Homo sapiens: one gene and its partner. The protein of the gene in region 1 purifies or fractionates together with the protein of each later gene. This does not show direct contact. Each region holds a gene or a part of one and is shown on either strand. Other genes may lie near its edges.

Region 1 (3,820 bases):
ACCTGTGTTACTGCATTTTTCCCTGCTGGAGAAAGGAGCATACTCAGTGTTTCCCCTCAGAGGAGGGAGAAAGCACTGGAAGTCTGAGTTCTCCCGACTGTGCCTGTTCCTTTTTCCCTTCCGGATTCTGTCATGTGTCCTTTCACTGTAATAAACCTTAGCCGTTGAGTGCAACTATATGCTCAGCCCTGTGAATCCTTCTGGGACTCAACAATCCTAAATCACTGAATGTGGCCTTGGCAACCCACAAATCACAGAATTTTCAGAACTACCTCATATACACTTCTTAGCATGTTTCTGCATTTATTTCCTTAGGTTCTACTTTCCTAGAAGCAGATCTGCCAAATTAAATGGTATGTGGCATTTTAAATCTTGATACATATCACTACAACTCCCTATAGGAAGACTGTATAAAATTTATCCCTGTGTAAATGCATAATAAGTATTTACCACACAGCCTTGCTGACCACAAGTATTCATCTTTTTTGCTAGAAACAAAATCTTTATTGCTGTAAGATGTGTTTCTTTGCCCAATTTCTTATTTTCTTATTGACTTATTAAGAGTTCTCTCTATATATGAAGGATACTTGTATGAAGAAATTTACTACAAACCTTTAGAACTTAACAAATTTATTATTTCTATTTACAGAAGTTAAATCCTTTATGTTTCCAGATTTGGTATAATACTAGGAAAGGCTTTCCTCACCTATTTAAAAATATTTTCTATATTTTCTTCTAGAATTTCTAAGGAATCTAGAATTTAGCATACAGTCTTTAATCGATCTGGAATTCTCATATATGCTGTGAAGTAGATCTAACTTTTAGATTAACCAGCAGTCCCAGCATAGGGGTGAGCTATACTTTCTTCATTTGGCTTACCTATATTTTCTGATCCCTACAACAAACACATGTTATTTTATATTTGTGTAAAGTGAAGTTTGTTTTTTTTAATTTTAGATTCATCCTAATTCTTTTTTTTTTTTTTTTTTGGAGATGGAGTTTTGCTCTTGTTGCCCAGGCTGGAGTGTAATGGTGCGATCTCAGCTCACTGCAACCTCCGCTCCCTGGGTTCAAACAATTCTCCTGCCTCAGCTTCCCGAATAGCTGGGATTACAGGCACACGCCACCACGCCCAGGTAATTTTTGTATTTTTAGTAGAGATAGGGTTTCACCATGTTGGCCAGGATGGTCTCGAACTCCAGACCTCAAGTGATCCACCGGCCTCGGCCTCCCAAAGTGCTGCAATTACAGGCCTGAGCCACCGTGCCCAGCCCAACCTAATTCTTTAAAAATAAACTGCTTCACCCAGGAGTTCGAAGCTGCAGTGAGCTATGATCTTGGTCTCTTTAAAAAAACAAAAAACAAACAAAAACTTTAAAAATTGCTTGGGGTTAAATTCCAGTTACCTGTCTTTTGGATCCCAGCTGAAAAAAACATTTAAGTCTCTGTTGTCTCGCAAATCTTCCCATGGAATGTCATCTTCTTCTGGCCTAAGGTTCATTGACTTTATACTTTCTGCTAAACTGGTTGATCTGTGATAGAGAAAAATCCACATATTATTTTAATAGTAAAATAGCCAGAAAATATTATTAATCAGGACTTCCTGTTTTACTAGACAGGAAGGGAAAGAGGAAGGAAGGGCTCATAATAAGGTGAAATAGAACCAAGCGCAGATCAAACTGGCTTGCTACATGGCAAGAAAAAGGCTTCTGGAAGCCCACACAAAACAAAGGGGATCAGCATTAATTCCTGAAATCTCTTGATTTGTAGGGGAGGCGGAACCTTCGTAAGCACAATATGGACCAGGCATTGATGACCATGACCTAAATGGCTTCTGTAATGGTCTCAAGATGTTGCTGGCAGTACTCTACCATTCCCCATGACATGTGCCAAGTTCTGTTTCCCCACTGTCTCTCTCCCTTTTTTCCCCCTATTTTACCTTAAGCCTGCCAATAACACCCATGAGCCCATTAATGGCTCTTAACAACTGATCTAATCCCTTAGTTCCTTTATAGCTCTCATGCAATACTTACATATTTGCTTCAAGTAGAAGGTCTAACAGCATCCGTTCAGTACGGACTTGTGCAAAATGAAGAGAATTATTCAGCCTGTTCCTAAAAGCGATAAACTCTGGGATCTTCTCAAATGCACCATATTTGTAAGCTTGAATAATATATTCTGAGGTCTGAGAAGGAAAGACATCACCTTGGTATAAATAGTTCACAAGTCAGGCAATGTAAGCAAACCTTGCCAGCCAAAACAAAACACTCAAACTAAAATTAAGTTTTAAATCTAATCTTTAAAGGTCTTGGTCACCAAGTAGAATATTAGCTTTTTAAAATGTTTTTCTTCCTTCTTATACTTTAGACAAATGTCTCCTTTACTAATATTACTAATTGTAATAACCAGCTTCTGCCACCATCACATAAGCCTTCTCTTGGCAGTCATGTCTTTCAATTCAATAGGAACTGAGGTTTTGTTTTGCCACATCAGTCAAAAATTTGGTTAGTGCCATTCTGGAAGGGATGTTACTCCATGTTTTTCTGCATCTAAGATAAACTGTGTTTCATACAAAGGTTCCAAAAGCACCAGAATAATAGAACCACCTGCCCCCCGCCCCCCCAAATAAAAACCACTCTCCTTCAGAAAAAGACAGGCTGCTCCTTGGTTTTGCTTATTTCTGAATACTGTATTAGAAACACAGGGCATATGAGCATTACGTCAGGATAGAAGTAAGACACCAAACAAAAGACCTATCAAAATTCATGTCATAATCTATTCTGAGGACAAAGACTTCAAGAACCAAGTTTCTTGTCCATCTACATTACGTAAGACCTCTGCTGGAAATTTCCTTAAACAAGTATGTGAAGGGAACATTCACCACATGTGCTTTAATTGTAGCTTAATACATATACAGAGATCAAACATTACAGAACAGAGGCAAGATAAAGAATTCTAAGCAGAAATTCTGGCACAATAGAAGAAAATCTCAGGGAAGAACATTTCATGGGTGTGGGTCTATGCCATCAGGATCAGAAGACAGGAGATTACCCCTTTGGGCCAAGGAAACTATTATGCTCAAAGCTGATGTCTGCCCCCAAAAAAGATCCTTTCTAGAAAAAACAGTCTTTTTACACAGCCTCAGTTAATCAGCTCTGCCCCCATCTCCATTACGTCTGAATAATTTGCCCAGTAGGAAAATAGGCCAATAGTCAACAACATACCCTCTGATATACAGCCTTGCAGGGTTCATTTCAGGCCGCGGGATTGCGCCACGGGCGCTAATTCAACTGCATTCGATGCGGCTTTTAAACCCCCATGGGACACCTCGGCGAGCTGTTTGCCTGCAGTATCTGGAGAAATTAAAGACGGACGGACACAAGAAAATTAAAAAGATTACTTGTGATCCTGCAGGTTTCAAGAAGGACTACCTGAAAAAGCTCGAGTATACCTTCTAGCTTGATTAAAGGACAGTGATACACCCTATCAAGAGGAGGCCAGGATACTCTAAACACATATGCCTATCCTATGGCCCCTTGGCTTAGAAAACACAGCAAGGTTTACTACTATTAGCCCTTGTAATAGGAACTTACAGCTGGGGAAAAAAAAACAGCTGGTTAGGAACACATGATTCAGTAATTAATCAAAAAGAAAATATGACTTTAGTAATTCCAATCAAAGTTATAATTACAGTTCCAAAGTATGCTATGATTTAAGGAGGGAACCCAGCCTTACCAAGTGTAGAGGCAGTTTTAATTTCTAAGTGGTCCGTGGAACACCACTTTATTTAAAAAAAAAAAAAAAAAAGGCAATAGCTTTT
Region 2 (3,820 bases), on another chromosome or scaffold:
AGCGTTCCTAATGCTGTCAGTGACAAATAAATACAATAAAACTTGATAAAAGAAATAAGTTAATCAGATGGAATGTGTCTACACTTGAGTGCTGCATCTGAAGAATTAGAAATGTATACTTTTCCCCATGGCTTGGGCTTGAGTTTTACCACTGCCAAAATTCCATGTAATTGCCTCTTAGACAATCAAGGTTATTACAAGTAAATAAAATTGTGTTTGTGTATGTGTTCACAAATAACCCTGATTGTCAAAAGAGAGCAAAAAAATAGCTCACAAAGGCTTATGATCTAACAAAGAACCAGAATGTTTGATCCCTCCTCTCTCCTTCTGTCTCTTACCCACATCCATACATACACGCTCACACCCAAAAGAAGAAACAATGGGGAGAATTTACTTTCTAATTTGATAGAAAGTTACTCACCTAACGAGCGCCAAAGGCCTCGCTCCTTTTTCCTTGCCATTTCCTCCTGTACTTTACAAAGCATATCTTCAATGTTCATAACCACCTCAATGAGGTCAGCCCGGGCTCCTTCAATCTCTAACTCTGTCCTTCCTGGGCTGATAATTTCTGTGATGGAGACACTTGAAGTTTTCTGAAGCTGAGACAAAATGTCATGTTCCTTTCTCCCAAGGTACAGAATATGATTATTCTCAATGATGTGGTGGTTCTGGAGACTCAGGATTCTTTGGATCCATGCGTGGGCCTCATACATCTCTTCCACGTTGAATCCCATCAGATTGATGGCAGGAGATCTAGCTTCAAGCCCATTTTCTCTTTTCTCCTCTCTGGTTGACTGGGGGACTGAAATGACTATAATAAGCAACCATGGAAGACTAGCAGTTTTTTGTTTTTTTTTTGAGATGGAGTCTCGCTCTGTCTCACAAGCTGGAGTGCAGTGCTGCGATCTCAGCTCACTGCAAGCTCCGCCTCCCGGGTTCACGCCATTCTCCTGCCTCAGCCTCCCGAGTAGCTGGGACTACAGGCGCCCGCCACCAAGCCCGGCTAATTTTTTGTATTTTTAGTCGAGACGGGGTTTCACCGTGTTAGCCGGGATGGTCTCAATCTCCCGACCTCGTGATCTGCCTGCCTCGGCCTCCCACAGTGCCAGGATTACAGGCGTGAGCCAACGTGCCCGGCCGACTAGTGGGTTTTAAAACAGTGCAGAACAAAACACCATGGCCAGTGTTTTACCCCTATGATATTGTCACCACTGTCAGCAGTAGCAGCTTCAATTAAGTACCTATCTCTGAAAGCTGCATTGGGTATGAAGGAAATCAACCTGTATCGTTTACAGCCTCCTTGGGAACACAGAGTTTAGCTTGTAATGGATTAGCTTTATCGTCTCTTGCCTCTGCTATGTTGCATTTGGCAGTTCACAGATGAGTTCACCTTGTGATCTCACCCTGGATGTTAACTAAGTATTATTTCCTGCTGAATAGGATTTTCCTTAACCTCTTGCTACTAGTTTTAAAATCAAACATCTCTGAAAGACACAGAGCTTGAAGAGTCAAAATTATTTTTTAAAAAACAAACATGAATCTCTGATTTTAAGAATAATACATGTTTATTATTTAAAAATTGGGAAATTATCGACATATAATGGAAAGAAGAAATACCTGTAATTCCACTACTCAGGATTCCTCACAACCTTATGAGAAAGATACTAGTAGTTGTCCCATCTCACCAACAAGGAAACTGATTCACAGAGTCATTAAGTAACTTGCCCATGGCTATAGGACTAGTTAGTGGTGGCCATGAAGCTAGTAGGTATGGGCATCTGACTCCAGTGCTCCCACATATGCCTCCCAGTGAGTAATATCTGAATAGCAGTGGAAATTCTCATCTTTCTCCTGAGATCTCAGTTGTGTGGTACAGGAGCTACAAAAGAAGTATAAGGACAGACCTAGAAGTAAGATGGGGAGGATGGCCTTCCTCTGAGTAAAGATAAAAAAGACAAAAGCCAAGGTTTTAGACAACAGTAAGAAGTAACCCAGGTTTTATATTGGAGGCATACTTTTTTTAAAACCCTTGTTCTGTCTAGGAGATTATATTATTTTTTAGGAGAAAATAAAAACAATGCATAGTGATATTGCATTTATCCATTATTATCAAGAGAAACTTCTTTTTCTTCTTCTTCTTCCTCTTCTTCCTTTCTCCTCTCCCTCCCCCTACCCCTTTCTTCTCCTCCTCCTCCTTCTACTACTACTTTTTTTTTTTTTTTTTTTTTTTAGAGACAGGGTGTCACTATGCTGGTCTTGACCTCCTGGCCTCAAGCAATACACCCACCTTGGCCTCCCAAAGCACTGGGACTACAGGCATGAGTCAGCATGCCTGGCCAATAATCATAATAATAATAATACTAATTTTTTTTTTGAGACAGAGTCTCGCTCTGTTGCCCAGGCTGGAGTGCAGTGGTGCAATCTTGGCTCACTGCAAGCTCCGCCTCCCGGGTTCACACCAGGCTGTCGCCCAGGCTGGAGTGTAGTGGCGCAATCTCGGCTCACTGCAGCCTCCGCCTCCTGGGTTCAGACGATTCTCCTGCTGCAGCCTCCCGAGTAGCTGGGATTACAGGCGCCCACCACCACACCCGGCTAATTTTTGTACTTTTAGTAGAGATGGGGTTTCACCATGTTGGCCAGGCTGGTCTTGAACTCCTGACCTCATGATCTGCTCGCCTTGGCCTCCCAAAGTGCTGGGATTACAGGCGTGAGCCACTGCACCCGGCCAATAATTATTATTCTAACTTTAGTATATGTGTTGGCAAAGCGAGCACTATTCTTCTAGATAAGTAAATTGTTCGGATCACTAAAGGATAACTCTTCTAGCACCAAAATACACTGAATTTTAACTCTGAGTTATCTATTTATTTTTTTGAGACCAAGTCTCCCTCCGTTGCCCAAGCTGGAGTGCAGTGGCACAATCTCAGCTCACTGCAACCTCCGCCTCCTGGGTTCAAGCGATTCTCCTGCCTCAGCCTCCTGAGTAGTTGGGATTACAGGCACACGCCACCATGCCTGGCTAATTCTTTTTTGTATTTTTAGTAGAGATAAGGTTTCACCATGTTGGCCAAACTGGTCTCGAACTCCTGACCTCAGGTGATCCACTTGCCTCGGCCTCCCAAAGTGCTGGGATTACAGGCATGAGCCACCGTGCCCGGCTGAATTAAATATTTCTAATGATAACGTACCACCTCTCTGCCTTCCTAAATAGTTTTTTGTTTGTTTGTTTGTTTTTTGTTTTTTTTTGAGACAGTTTCCCTCTTGTTGCTCAGGCTGGAGTGCAATGGCGCAATCTTGGCTCACTGCAATCTCCACCTCCCACGTTTAAGCGATTCTCCTGCCTCAGCCTCCCGAGTAGCTGGGATTACAGACATGTGCCACCATGCCCGGCTAATTTTGTATTTTTAGCAGAGATGGGATTTCTCCATGTTAGTCAGGCTGGTCTCGAACTCCCGACCTCAGGTGATCCGCCTGCCTCAGCCTCCCAAAGTGCTGGGATTACAGGCGTAAGCCACGGTGCCCGGCCCTTCCTAAATAGTTTATTTAACCTTTCCTTGATAATCTGAGATCATCATCATTAATCATTTTGTTTATTTGTCACCCAGGTTGGAGTGCAGTGGCACAATCATGGCTCACTGCAGCCTTGACCTCCCCGGGCTTAGGTGATCCTCCCATCTCAGCCTCCCAAGTAGCTGGGACTATAGGTATGCACCACCACACCTGGCTAATTTTTGTATTTTTTGTAGAGATGGGTTTTAACATCTTGCCCAGGCTGGTCTCGAACTCCTGACCTCAAGTGATCCACCTGCCCTGGCCTCCC

The links.
Region 2: the proteins of NAA25 (region 1) and PARP9 fractionate together in Homo sapiens (co-fractionation; one large-scale study listed by BioGRID). This does not show direct contact.

The regions. Positions count from the first base shown.
Region 1 is NC_000012.12:112,046,259-112,050,078, forward strand, and holds part of NAA25 (N-alpha-acetyltransferase 25, NatB auxiliary subunit), read right to left. Parts: intron 3,354-3,820; exon of another isoform or gene 3,225-3,353; intron 2,186-3,224; coding exon 2,034-2,185; intron 1,533-2,033; coding exon 1,407-1,532; intron 354-1,406; exon of another isoform or gene 1-353. UniProt on the Homo sapiens protein: Non-catalytic subunit of the NatB complex which catalyzes acetylation of the N-terminal methionine residues of peptides beginning with Met-Asp, Met-Glu, Met-Asn and Met-Gln. May play a role in normal cell-cycle progression.
Region 2 is NC_000003.12:122,540,051-122,543,870, forward strand, and holds part of PARP9 (protein mono-ADP-ribosyltransferase PARP9), read right to left. Parts: intron 803-3,820; coding exon 422-802; intron 1-421.